Regions from separate parts of the Homo sapiens genome. Here regions 1 and 3 are each linked to region 2. Evidence: fine-mapped expression QTL. A gene starts in region 2. Each other region holds a variant in brackets. All regions are shown on one strand. Distances are between the middles of the regions. Region 1 holds the start of FAM218A (family with sequence similarity 218 member A). Region 2 holds the start of TRIM61 (tripartite motif containing 61). Region 3 has its middle 20 kb from the start of TRIM60.

Region 1 (4,241 bases), 22 kb after region 2:
CTTTGGCAAAGTTATTACATTTCTATAGCTGAAAACTAAAGCATGAATCCTATTGTGATGGCGTCTTTTTCCATCTCCTGGGAAGACAATTCTAACAAACAACTCTATTATATCTATCCAGTTTGATTTTGTCCTCTTTCTCTTCCTCCTGGTAATAACAGCCTTAATCTTTTTTGGATCATGAGTTTTTGTGGTGTCTTTCCAAATCGCACTGTATTCTATCTTTAGAGATACAAGATTATGACTTGCTGTTTCAGAATCTAGAGTCAGATCTATGTAAAATGAATTAAGAATGTTTTGTCGACCATAATGTTGTGGCAGAAGTCTAGAATCATCATCCCTTGTTAAAATGGAAAAGCTCATAAAGTTTTTGTCTTAATACCTGTTATTGATACATACCCTTATATCAGTTACTAATTATTTGAGTGAATAGTTTACTCTGCTATCTCACTTATTAGAGCTTTAAATAAGAAAATATGGTCTGAAAGTTTTGTTTTCATCTAGTGTGCGTATCATATCCTATTCTTTATATTTTCAGGTTTTCAGAACTGCATCTTATTCATTTTCCGAATAAAGCACAAAGTGCTCAAAATCAGAGTTTAATCTCTTCCTCTAATATTCGACTATCTTCGGTAGCATTCATGTATTTTTAGTTAACATAACGATTGGTTTAGTTTTGGCTTATTTAAAGCATTTTACACTTGCTGTTTCAGATGTCAGATGTCCCCTGTGAGCTTCTTCCTTGAGGCAGCCTGCTCTATAGGACAGGTGAGCCCAGCGGGAGCCAGCCCACTGCAGACCCAAACCCTCTAGTCCTTGTCACAAAAAGAGGCTGGGACCTGATGGTGGTTCTCTTCCTGACTTTTCCTGGTGGTCCTTCTGACTTGGAGTGGCCTGGCAATTTCGGTGGCGTGACAGCCGGAATGCTGCCACTAAAATTCCTCTCTGGGCACCATGAGCGGCTGACAGGGCACGCGGAGAAAACGATTCGCTTCTCCCAGGATTGGTGGAGCGACCGCTGTTGGACGAATGTGGTCGTCCCTGGATGTCTGAGCAAAGAGACACTGCCATGGCGGCCGCCGGTCAGCGTATAAGGTCTGTTAGGGAGACCCGAAGCCCTGCACCAGGAACGCAGTTTGGCTCGCCCAGCCCACCCTGCAGGGCTGGCTCTCCAGGCGCTGGGTCCGGGGAGAAGAGGACAGCTGCCCCGCCGCACCGCGCATCCTTCCATCCACTGTGGTACATGGCGCTGCCCCGGTCTCCAACGTCGCGCCACACCTTCACGGTCTCACCCGGAAGTCGAAGCCCAGAGACGGTGCCGGCCGCACCCAATCACTGCTCTGCCGCTCCGACTTCCGCTACGGACTCGCCCAGCCTCCTGGGAGAAACGCTGCAGTGCTTGGGGTGCTGAAGCCCCTTGAGAGCCTTGTGTTCTGTGAGAAAGTTGCATTCTGAAGGAACCTCAGCTGTTTGCTTTGCTCTTCTGCCACCCAACCCTACCTGTGCCAGACTGAGGGCTCTCCCTGCCCCGCCTTAACAGAAGAGAATTCCAGTTGCTGTTTTAATTTATTGAATCTTATTTATAACTGGTTGGAGAAAAATATGGTTATAATTCCCACTGAACAGCTTATTAAAAGTTACAGTAACACTATGATAATTGAGATATTGTCTTTTAGGGAATAAATAATGAAATTATAAGATGAAATATACAGATGAAATTATAAGATGTCTGGGAATTTACTCCATTGGCAGGAGAAGTT[G/C]CTGGGGTTATAAAGATTGTTAATTCAAATGATAGAAATTGGTTTCTTTTTATGTGTACGTTCTTCATAATGTTCTCTCTACTATTATGGATGTATGAAATACTCCACAATTTAAAAGCTTCCTTTTATACCCGGCATGGAAGCTCATGCCTGTAATCCCAGCACTTTGGTAGGCTGAGGTGGGCGGATCACATGAGCTCTGGAGTTTGAGACCAGCCAGGCCAACATGGTGAAACCCTGTCTGTACAAAAAATACAAAAATTAGCCGGACATGTTGGCCCGCCCCTGTGGTCCCAGCTACTCCGGAGGCTGAGGTGGGAGAATCGCTTGAACCTGGGGAGTTGAGGTTGCAGTGAGCCAGGATGGCGCCACTGCACCTCAGTCTGGACGACAGAACGAGAGCTTGTCTCAAAAAAATAAATAAACGAAAGATTTATTTCAAAAGGCTAATCATGTTTCAGCGTTATCAATGCCTCGTTCCAGAAAAGCTCATTTCTCTTACTCTTTTCTTTGAGCCGCCTCCCCGTTTTCAGTCCGCCTCAGGGCTCTCAGATTCTGTCTCCTTTGTCTTCCTCCTCACAGTTGTCCCTAATCTTAATCGATTTTCCATCCTCTACCAATTTCCTGTCTACACCCTCTTTAATCTCATAAAACTGCCAAATTAGTTTAAATCGGGATTGAGGAAAGAGCGAGACTAGGCATTGTGCTTCCATCTGGGTGTGTGTGTCTTGTGTGTGGATCCCAGGCCTGGTCTCAGATTACCTGAGTCATCTGGGGCTGGTCCCTGATATCCTCTCTTCATCCTTTTGTGGTCACATGAAGACAAGGAAAATCAACCTCAATTTCCCTTTAAGTTTTCTGTAAATATAAACACCAATAAAGACATATCTTCTGGAAAACTTGTTTTTTTTTTTTTTTTTTTTTTGAGACTGAATCTCTCTTAGTCACCCAGGCTGGACTGCAGTGGCAAGTTCGTAGCTCACTGTAGCCTCAAACTCTTGACCTCAAGCAATCTTCCTGCCTGGGCCTCCCACACTACTCGGGTTGCAGTCTTGAGCCATTGAGCTCAGCCTGGAAAAAATTTTTTAAAACATAGGATTTGGTGTGGCACAGAACTCAATATATTCCAAGAATGGTTTGTGTTTCTGATTCTTCTGTTGACTGTTTAATGGTAGATATGCTGATTATGCAGAACAGTTCAGACATAATTAGATGTAATTAGGGCAAACCAGCATGAGGCCCCTTATGAGAAGTCCAAATCTGTGATTGTCATACAACATACAAAAGAACTGTCTCATATACGATGTCAGAGTAAAGAGTGAACCAAATAGGTTATGTGTAGGACATGTGTATACTACTATAATACCATAATAATTTTTTTTTTTTTTTTTTTTGAGATGGAGTCTCCTTCTGTCACCAGGCTGGAGTGCAGTTGCACGATCTCGGCTCACTTCAACCTCCGCCTCCCGGGATCAAGCGATTCTTCTGCCTCTGGCTCCTGAGTAGCTGGGACTACAGGTGCCCTCCACCATGCCCAGCTAACTTCTGTATTTCTAGTAGAGACAGGGTTTCATCATGTTGGCCAGATGGTCTCGATCTCTTGACCTTGTGATCTGCCTGCCTTGGCCTCCCAAAGTGCTGGGATTACAGGCATGAGCCACTGTGCTGGGCCAATAAAATTTTAAGTAAATATAAAACAGCATATTTATATTTTATTTTTTGTAGAGATGGTTGCCCAGGCTGGTCTGGAACTCCTGACCTCAAGCGATCTTCCTGCCTTGACCTCCCAAAGTGCTGGGATTATAGCCATGCTGCCAACCATGTGTAGGGTATGTATATGTTCCTATACCATAATAAAATTTTAATTACATTTGTAAGGTATGTAATTATATGTATTTCTGTATAATATGTACATATAAATATGCTAATTAATACAAGAACATATTGAATTATAATCAATATATATAATTTTAGATGTATATTGGAATGTTTATCTTTCTAATAATACAAAACTGATGGTTAAAAAATAAAATGCACAAACTCCCCAAGGTTCCTTCCTATGTGGCTACTTTCCCCAGCTTAGGTCCAGCCAAAGGCTGCACGCCCTTTACTGAGTGTAGCTCACCTGTGCCTCCTGGTGCAATCCTCACTCAGATATTCTGCTCCCAGTAGAGGGTTAGTGTAGGGTGCGGAGCCTACCTGTATTCACTTGTCAGCAGTTCACTGGGGATTGTCAGCTTTTTCCATCCTTGCAGAGCTGTTTCTTCGTCGATCCAGGTCAGAAGACGCAACACAGTCCCTACTTCTTGTTCACCAAAATGGTGACCTCAGAACGAATTCAGTCTTAAACCCTGTAGGGAGTTTTTTTTTCCTTATGCAGTCAGCATGGGGGAAGTGACAGGTCCCAGAGGGCAGTTCTCTCTTGTTCTCTGATTGCTCCTGCAGGGTCCTGGGTTGGTGAAGGGGACAGGGGTAGGGACC
Region 2 (4,241 bases):
TAGCTGGGATTACAGGCAGGCGCCACCACGCCGGCTAATTTTTGTATTTTTAGTAGAGATGGGGTTTCACCATGTTGGTCAGGCTGGTCTCGAACTCCTGACCTTGTTATCCGCCCACCTCGGCCTCCCAAAGTGCTGGGATTACAAGCGTGATTTTTAATGCCACGTACTGTGACAGGGAAAGAAACCACCCTGCTGGCTGCATAGTTTGTTTAAATAGCATAATATACAGGGTGGGTGCAGTGGCTCACACCTTTAAGTAATCCCAGCATTTTGGGAGCCCGAGGCGGGTGGATCGCTTAAGCCCAGGAGTTTGAGATCAGCCGGGCCAACACAGTGAAACCCCCGTCTGTACTGAAAGCACAAAAACTTAGCCGGGCGTGGGTGGCACGCGCCTGTAATCCCAGCTACTCTGTAGGCTGAGGCAGGAGAACTGTTTGAACCAGGGAGGCTGAACCCGCGAGGCGGAGCTTGCAGTGAGCCAAAATGGCGCCATTGTACTCCAGCCTGGGCGAAAATAACAAATAAATACCATGCACTCACCTCACTGCAAAGTAATATGGGGGAAGCTGCTGCCACTGGTATTTCTTTTCCTTTCTTTTTCAGGAGACTCTGGAATTTCAAAAGGTTTACGAACAAGGACTTTGCTTTATCGGTTGATTTGTCTAGGTCACACCTCTATTCAACTGTCCACCATACACCCTTTCTAGGATATATTAAAGGCATCGACGGGTCTTTATTCCACAATTCAAATCTTAGTACTTCATGTTTAAAATGCTTCACTGGCTTTTCTTTGCATTTGATAAAAACCAATATCCTCAATTTTGCCTAAAGGGCCTTGCAGCATTCATTCTCGCCTATCTCATCAGCCTCACAAAGCCATTTTCCATATTTTATACTTCTTGCAATTTCCCACGTTGTAGTGCCAACCAAATGACCTCTTTCAGTTCCTTTTGTACCAAGTTTTTAAAAATTATCATCTCTAGGCAGGGCGCGGTGGCTCACGCCTGTACTCCTAGCACTTTGGGAGGCCGAGGCGGGCGGATCACGAGGTCAGGAAATCGACACCATCCTGGCTAACACGGTGAAACCCCGTCTCCACTAAAAATACAAAAAATTAGCTGGGCGTGGTGGCAGGCACCTGTAGTCCCAGCTACTCTGGAGGCTGAGGCAGGAGAATGGCGTGAACCCGGGAGGCGGAGCTTGCAGTGAGCCGAGATCACGCAACTGCACTCCAGCCTGGGCCACAGAGCGAGACTCCGTCTCAAAAAAAAAATAAAAATAAAAATAAAATTATCATTTCTGGCTGGGTGAGGTGGCTCACGCCTGTAATCCTGGCACTTTTGGGAGGCCGAGGCGGGCGGATTGCCTGATCTCAGGAGTTCGAATCCAGCCTGGGCAACACGATGAAACCCCGTCTCTACTAAAAATACAACAACAAAAAATTAGCCAGGCGTGGCGGCGTGCGCCTATAGACCCAGCTACTCGGGAGACAGAGGCAGGAGAATTGCTTGAAACTGGGAGGCAGAGGTTGCAGAGAGCCAAGATCGCGCCACTGCACTCCAGCCTGGGCGAAAGAGAGATTCCGTCTCTTATTAAAAGAAAAAAAAATCATTTCTAAAATATTTTGTAGACGCAGGGTCTGGCAATGTTACCTAGGCTTGTCCTGAACTCCTGGCCTCAAGCGATCCTCCCACCTCTGCCTCTGAAAGTGCTTGGATTACAGGTGTGAGCCACTATGCCCGGCCTGTACTAAATTCTTTAAAGTTGAGAGGCTCCACATTGGCTCTTCTTCCAGCCTTGAAGACTTTGACCGTGGAATTGATCCAACGAATGCCTCTTCATCCCTCAAATTCCGCCTGAAATGTCACTTCCTCAGGTAAACCTGAGTTCATAGGGTAGGGCACAATCCCACAGGGTGGGAGAGATCCACCCACTCACCCACTGAGATGCAAACTAATCCAAAGGGGCTTCTATTCCTCTTTCAAGCATAGGGAGTGCTCAACGACTCCACCCTGCGACCCCAGGCTACGGGAAGCAGTTGACCCTGCAAAGCTCTCCACTCCCTCACCATCTGGGAGGGGACGCTGTGCTGGTGAAGCTTTTAAAACCAACTTGCAGACTTACTTGGACCCTCAAGTTTACTCATATACATAAAAAGTGATAAGAATCCGAAAAGACAGCCAGGGGAATTAAATGCCAGTTGGGGCCAACGGGGCCCTGATCACGGAAGAGGGCGCCCCCAGCTCTCAATCTTCACACAATCCCTGCACCCAGGGTCACAGAGCATGCGCAGGTCCTTCCCGCCCACTTCCGGGGCAACTGCCAACCACCGCGCAGGCTGAGCCCCAGGCAGGAAGCAGCCCACTTGGTGGGGTTGGGGTATGAGTCCTTCCTCGCGGGGGCTCGGTGGGTCCTGAGTATTCTTTGGCCGGATTTGCTGATCCGTCTGCTCCAGGTGAGCTGGGAAGGCCGCAGGAAAGGCCCAGAAGGGCCTCGCCAGGAGGCTTAACTGGACAGGGGCTTCTTGAACATTCTCTGTGCCTAAACCTCCGGGTCGCTGCCTGCCCACGACTGGATCTCCTTAGTGTCTGGCGTAGCTCTTGTGAAAAATTCAGGATTGTAGAGTTAGAATGGGGGTGTTGAGCCTGTATCAATTAAGCTTTAAATGTTATGATCTGAATTAGGGTTTATGAAGTGGCTATGTTATCTTCAAAGAGTTAATGTACGTGTTTGGGAGTGGGGGTTGGGGAGTTAAGGGAGCGAAGTGGTAGCTGCCAGTTGAGAACCCACCAGCCTACGTCGTCTGCACCCTCGACCTATGTAAGCATCCTGTAATCCTCACAAGGGTCTTACAGGTACGAATTATCATTTCAACTTTGTAGATGAGGCGCTTTAGGTGCAGGCATGTTAAGAATCAGCCAGTATGATGATGGTTGAAACTGAGAGCTTGGAATCTACCACAGGTTTTATTTATTCCTCAAACAAGCTAGAGACGTATTGCCACCAAGAAGCTTGCTGCCTGGTGAGGGGTTTTTACAGTTAGGTAAAGAATTGCAGAGTAGCTGTAAAATCACATAACTGTGATATGTGACATGATGGGAGCTAGGCAAAAAACTTGGACTAGATCTTAATGGATCTTTTTGCTTTGTTTTCCTTAAAGCATAGGTTCACAAAGTACAGTCCGCAGGCCAGCAGCATCATCTGGGAACTTAGGAAAAAACCAGCCCTACTGAGTCAGAAACTGGGGATGTGGCCCAGGCAATCTTTTACCAAGACCTCCAGGTGATTATAATGCAAGGTAAGATTTGAGAATTGCTTCCATAAAGTAATAAAGGACCAGTGGAATGTTTTCAGTTGAAATATGAAAGGATTCTGTTTGTATTTGAAAAGGTCAGTTTAGCTACAGACTTCAGAAATTGGAGGCACCATTGTGTATCTAGGAGAGAGACATAAGTGGTTTAAACTAGGGTGGTGACTGTGCCTACAGAGCTGTTCTGTTCACTTAATGTCCTGATTTTAAATAGTAGAGAAGACTGCTTTGGGTGTATGCTTGGGGAAAGGAGGGCACAATGATACCTGGAGTGAGTCCTCTTGTGTCCTTTATGAAGGGGTGGCCTGCCCCTCCACACCTGTGGGTATTTCTAGTCGGGTGGGACGAGAGACTGAGAAAAGAAATAAGACAGAGACAAAGTATAGAGAAACAACAGTGGGCCCAGGGGACCGGCGCTCAGCATACCAAGGACCTGCACCGGCACCGGCCTCTGAGTTCCCTCAGTTTTTATTGATTATTATTTTCATTATTTCAGCAAAAAGGAATGTAGTAGGAGAGCAGGGTTATAATAAGGAGAAGGTCAGCAACAAACATGTGAGCAATAGAATCTATGTCATAATTAAGTTCAAGGGAAAGTACTATGACTGGACGTGCACGTAAGCCAGATTTATGTTTCTCTCCACCCAAACATCTCAGCGGAGTAAAGAATAACAAGTCAGCATTACTGCAAACATGTCTCGCCTCCCACCATAGGGCGGTTTTTCTCCTATTTCAGAATTGAACAAAGGTACAATCAGGTTTTATACCAAGACATTCAGTTCCCAGGGGCAGGCAGCAGACCGTGGCCTTCCTCCATCTCAACTGCAAGAGGCTTTCCTCTTTTACTAATTCACCTCAGCACAGACCCTTTACGGGTGTCAGGCTGGGGACAGTCAGGTCTTTCTCATCCCACGAGGCCATATTTCAG
Region 3 (4,241 bases), 34 kb before region 2:
AACAAATATAGGCCGGGCATGGTGGCTCATGCCTGTAATCCCAGCACTGTGGGAGGCCAAGGCAGGCAAATCACCTGAGCTCAGAAGTGAGACCAGCTAGGGCAGCATGGTGAAACCTAAAGAAATACAAGAAATTAGCCAGGTGTGTCAGTGTACTTGGGAAACTGAGGTGTACCACATCTCTGTCTCATGAGCCTGCATCATCCACTATCCACTCTGCTGGCCTCAAATCTGCCTCCCAAACCAAACCATTTTCATCCTCATGGACTGTTGTGAGGCACCCTTGCAGGATCACTCCACAGGCCCACTGGTCTGGTGAGGTCACCTCCCACCCCCCAAACCCCACCTAAGGTTCCTGCCCCTTCCCTGAGTCCAGGCTCATCTCTACTCCAGGGGGACCTTGTTATTGATGACCCAGCCCTATATTTCTATGAGATTTACCTCTCAGAAACTCTATCAGGTTCTCGCAGTGAATATCAGAAAAACATCCTTTGTGCTTCTCACAGAGGCAAGTAGAAGTACCCTTTTTACAGCCGGGCGCGGTGGCTCACGCCTGTAATCCCAGCACTTTGGGAGGCCGAGGCGGGTGGATCACGAGGTCAGGAGATCGAGACCATCCTGGCTAACACGGTGAAACCCCGTCTCTACTAAAAATACAAAAAATGAGCCGGGCGTCGTGGCGGGCGCCTGTAGTCCCAGCTACTCCGGAGGCTGAGGCAGGAGAATGGCGTGAACCAAGGAGGCGGAGGTTGCAGTGAGCAGAGATTGCACCACTGCACTCCAGCCTGGGCGACAGAGCGAGACTCCGTCTCAAAGAAAAAAAAGTACCCTTTTTACTTTTTCTTGTATTTTCCATAAATTTTATTTTAAGATAAATTTTAGATGCACAGCAAAATTGGGCAGAATGTACAGATATAGCCCACATGTGCCCTTCCCCTACATAAGCACAGCCTCTGCCACTAACAGCATCCCATCCAGAGTGGCATACTTCTTACAACTGATGAATCTACATTGAATCATCATTATCACACAAGGTCCATAGTTTACACAGGATTTCACTTTTACATTTTGTGGCAGATGAAAAATGTATGGTGTGTATTCACTATCATAGCACCACACAGAGTAATTCACTGCATTTAGCATATCTCTGTGCTCTTCCTGTTCATCTCTCGCACCCTCCAACCCCGTCAACCACTAATTCTTTTACTGTCTTCATAGTTTTTCCATTTTAAGAATTTTATGCCTTTCGGCCAGAGCCACCATCTTCCAGTAATTCACCAAAATGATGAACACAAAGGGAAAGAGGAGAGGCGCCCGATATATGTTCTCTAGGCCCTTTAGAAAACATGGACTTGTTCCTTTGGCCACGTATATGCGAATCTATAAGAAAGATGATATTGTAGACACCAAGGGAATGGGTACTGTTCAAAAGGAATGCCCCACAAGTGTTAGCATGGCAAAACTGGAAGAGTCTACAATGTTACCCAGCATGCTGTTGGCATTGTTGTAAACAAACAAGTTAAGGGCAAGATTCTTGCCAAGAGAATTAATGTGCGTATTGAGCACATTAAACACTGTGAGCCGAGATAGCTTCCTGAAACACATGAAGGAAAATGATCAGAAAAAGAAAGAAGCCAAAGAGAAAGGTACCTGGGTTCAACTAAAGCGCCAGCCTGCTCCACCCAGAGAAGCACACTTTGTGAGAACCAATGGGAAGGAGTCTGAGCTGCTGGAACCTATTCCCTATGAATTCATGGCATAATAGGTGTTAAAACAAAAAATAAATAAAAGACCTCTGGGCTGTAAAAAAAAAAAAAAAGAATGTTACGTTGTAGGAATCATACAATATTAGCCTTTTCATAACATCTACCCACAAAAACCTCTTTGAATACATAGTCTGGAGCAATGAGTGCATTGCTCTCAACACATGCAGAAATGGGAGAGACCTTTAGAGAACTGTCTCCCACAGTCATGTCTTCTCTGCCACCTGAAATTTGTATGATACAGAAAATATTTTATTGTATGCAAAATTGATTAGACTAAAGGGATCACAATTTCATACACTCTAGTTTTAGATTTCCAGAACACTTAATAGTTTATCCTCACATCTGTTAATTTCTACAATATCTCTTGCTATTGAAACAAAATAATTTTTGAAAATAAGATAAAACAAAATGAGAAGACTAAACTTATAAAAGTACTTTATAAAACTTATGG[A/G]TGCTAAATTCAGTGACAACTGTATAAATTACAGGAAGAAAATGAAGCAATGTCACAGTTCAGCCATCATAATCTGTCATTATGCAGATTCTAAGAGGTTTTGAATCATGCCCCATACAGAAATAAGGCTTCAGTACTTCTGAAAATGTATCAGTGAAGGAATGGATGTGAGACCTGTCATTCAAATTGTAAAAGGAGATCTCGCCCAACTTGTAGTCCAGATAAATGCCAATTCCTCTGGGCTTCTCCTTTAGCGGAAGGATGACAGGAACAGCGCCTCAGGCCACACACTCACCATTCTGCAGCTGGATAGCCCAGCACATGCTCTGTCCTGACAGGGGCCACTTTCCCTTCCTGGGCAGGGATTCCTTACACACCCCCACGGTCCACATTGGCTTGTCATCCACTTGCACCTCCCAGTAATGCCGGCCACACTCAAATCCCTCAGAACCCAGGACCACTGGATGGGACAACAATCTCTTTGGATTCCAGTGAACTCTCTGACTTTCCTTCACAAATGTCACACATTTCTTATCCTCAGAGACACGCAGATGAGGATGTGCACTTTCAGGATCCAGAGTAACTTCTCTAAACTTCTGTATGATTTTCTGAAGAGCCGAGTACTGCAGGGGAAGCCTGTTTCCTTCCTTCTGGAGCTGCATAGAGTGGACAGCTGGGGCCTGCAGGCCTTACACCTGTGCAGGACGGTCCTTACATCCATCAGCAGTTTCACATCTGCCATCACACTCATCTCGGCCACCTGCGTAAGCAGACCTTTCAGGGTGGAAATGTGTTCTGAAAATGCCCTTATGTTTGCACCGAGTTTCTTCTGAATGTCCGTCTTTTCCTCAGCTAATCTACAGAAAGCTGCCTGCTTTTCATGGTCAACAAACTTCGTTAGGTGCTTCAACTGAGAGGATAATTCCTGCCTTTGGCTTTCTGTCTTCTCTCTGAGCTCCAACAACTTTCTGTCCTGGGTGGCTCACAGCTTCCTAACTTCAGGGTCTCAAGGTAACTGTGGAGCCTTTCCCTGTGATGGGAGGCAGCCTCCTCTATGGGGCTCACATGGTGGCCTTGGTGGTCATGGGTCTGAGTGCACAGGGGACACAACACCACCAGGTCCTCCTTGCAGAAAACACTCAGGGGCTGGTTGTGCTTCTCCCACAGGGGCATCTTGTCCTGCCTGACGTCATTGCCTCTGGCTCTCTGGAGTAGCTTGGCAATGTCAATCATCCTTCCCAGCTGGGTGTTGCTCCTGAAGTTTCCCTCTGGGCATTGGTGACTACAGACAGGGCAAGAGAACAATTCCTGTAGATCCAGCCAAGACTGTTGGATGCAGGAATGACAGAAGTTGTGTTCACATTCAATGGGAACGGGATTGCTCAGGTAATCCAGACAGATGGAGCACTTGGCCTCTTCCTGGAGTCCTGCCAGGGCTGCTGCCTCCGCCATCAGGCTGTGAATGAAGGTCTGGACAGAGAAGCTACTCTGCCCTCAGATCTCCCTGACCTTCCTGTCCTGAAGGTCTCCCTGTCTGTTGAAGTCAGTCGTTGACGTCCTCTGGGGTCACCAGCCTCAGCTTCTGAGAGCAGCTCTGCCTTCACCTGTGGCAGGTCATAGAGCAGTTGGGCAAGTAGCTGCGAAGCAATTCTCTTGTTCAGAAAGCAAACACGACTCTAAAGTGCCTGTGAGGTCCTGGGGATGAGAAAATATTTCTTCATTTACAAAAGGCTGCCATTTTCCTGGTACCCACAGAGCCCAACCTGCTGAAGAGGGCCCACCTTAGAGTAGAACTTCCTTCTTTTTGTGCTCTGCTCAATACCACATTTGAGGCAACCACTGATTCTTCCCTTCACTCTCAGCCATCTACCCACATCCAAATAAACCACACAGGGTTGCATGGTTTTGTGGAAATGACATCATATTGTGAACTAGATGCTGTGTCCTTGGGTTAGATTCTAGTCTTAGTCACATCCTCCATGAGGTACCTGAGAAAGTAACTTAACGTATTGGACTCAAGCAGA

The links.
Region 1: its variant is fine-mapped to the expression of TRIM61 in whole blood (TOPMed, PIP above 0.99). The same link has a PIP of 0.9 or more in blood mononuclear cells.
Region 3: its variant is fine-mapped to the expression of TRIM61 in whole blood (TOPMed, PIP above 0.99). The same link has a PIP of 0.9 or more in blood mononuclear cells.

The regions. Positions count from the first base shown.
Region 1 is chr4:164,954,013-164,958,253 of GRCh38, reverse strand. It overlaps FAM218A (family with sequence similarity 218 member A), which reads right to left and starts at 1,306. Exons shown (of 1, transcript NR_160935.1): 1 at 1-1,306. It also overlaps a transcript of TRIM61 not described here. RefSeq lists enhancers at 1,047-1,206, 1,507-1,556. The variant G/C (reference allele first, on the strand shown) is at 1,761.
Region 2 is chr4:164,975,748-164,979,988 of GRCh38, reverse strand. It overlaps TRIM61 (tripartite motif containing 61), which reads left to right and starts at 2,332. Exons shown (of 3, transcript NM_001414904.1): 1 at 2,332-2,458; 2 at 3,164-3,301. RefSeq lists enhancers at 2,054-2,113, 2,144-2,223.
Region 3 is chr4:165,009,887-165,014,127 of GRCh38, reverse strand. It overlaps the pseudogene LOC391713 and the pseudogene RPL21P51. Among named protein-coding and RNA genes, the nearest start is that of TRIM60, 20 kb to the left of the region's middle. The variant A/G (reference allele first, on the strand shown) is at 2,218.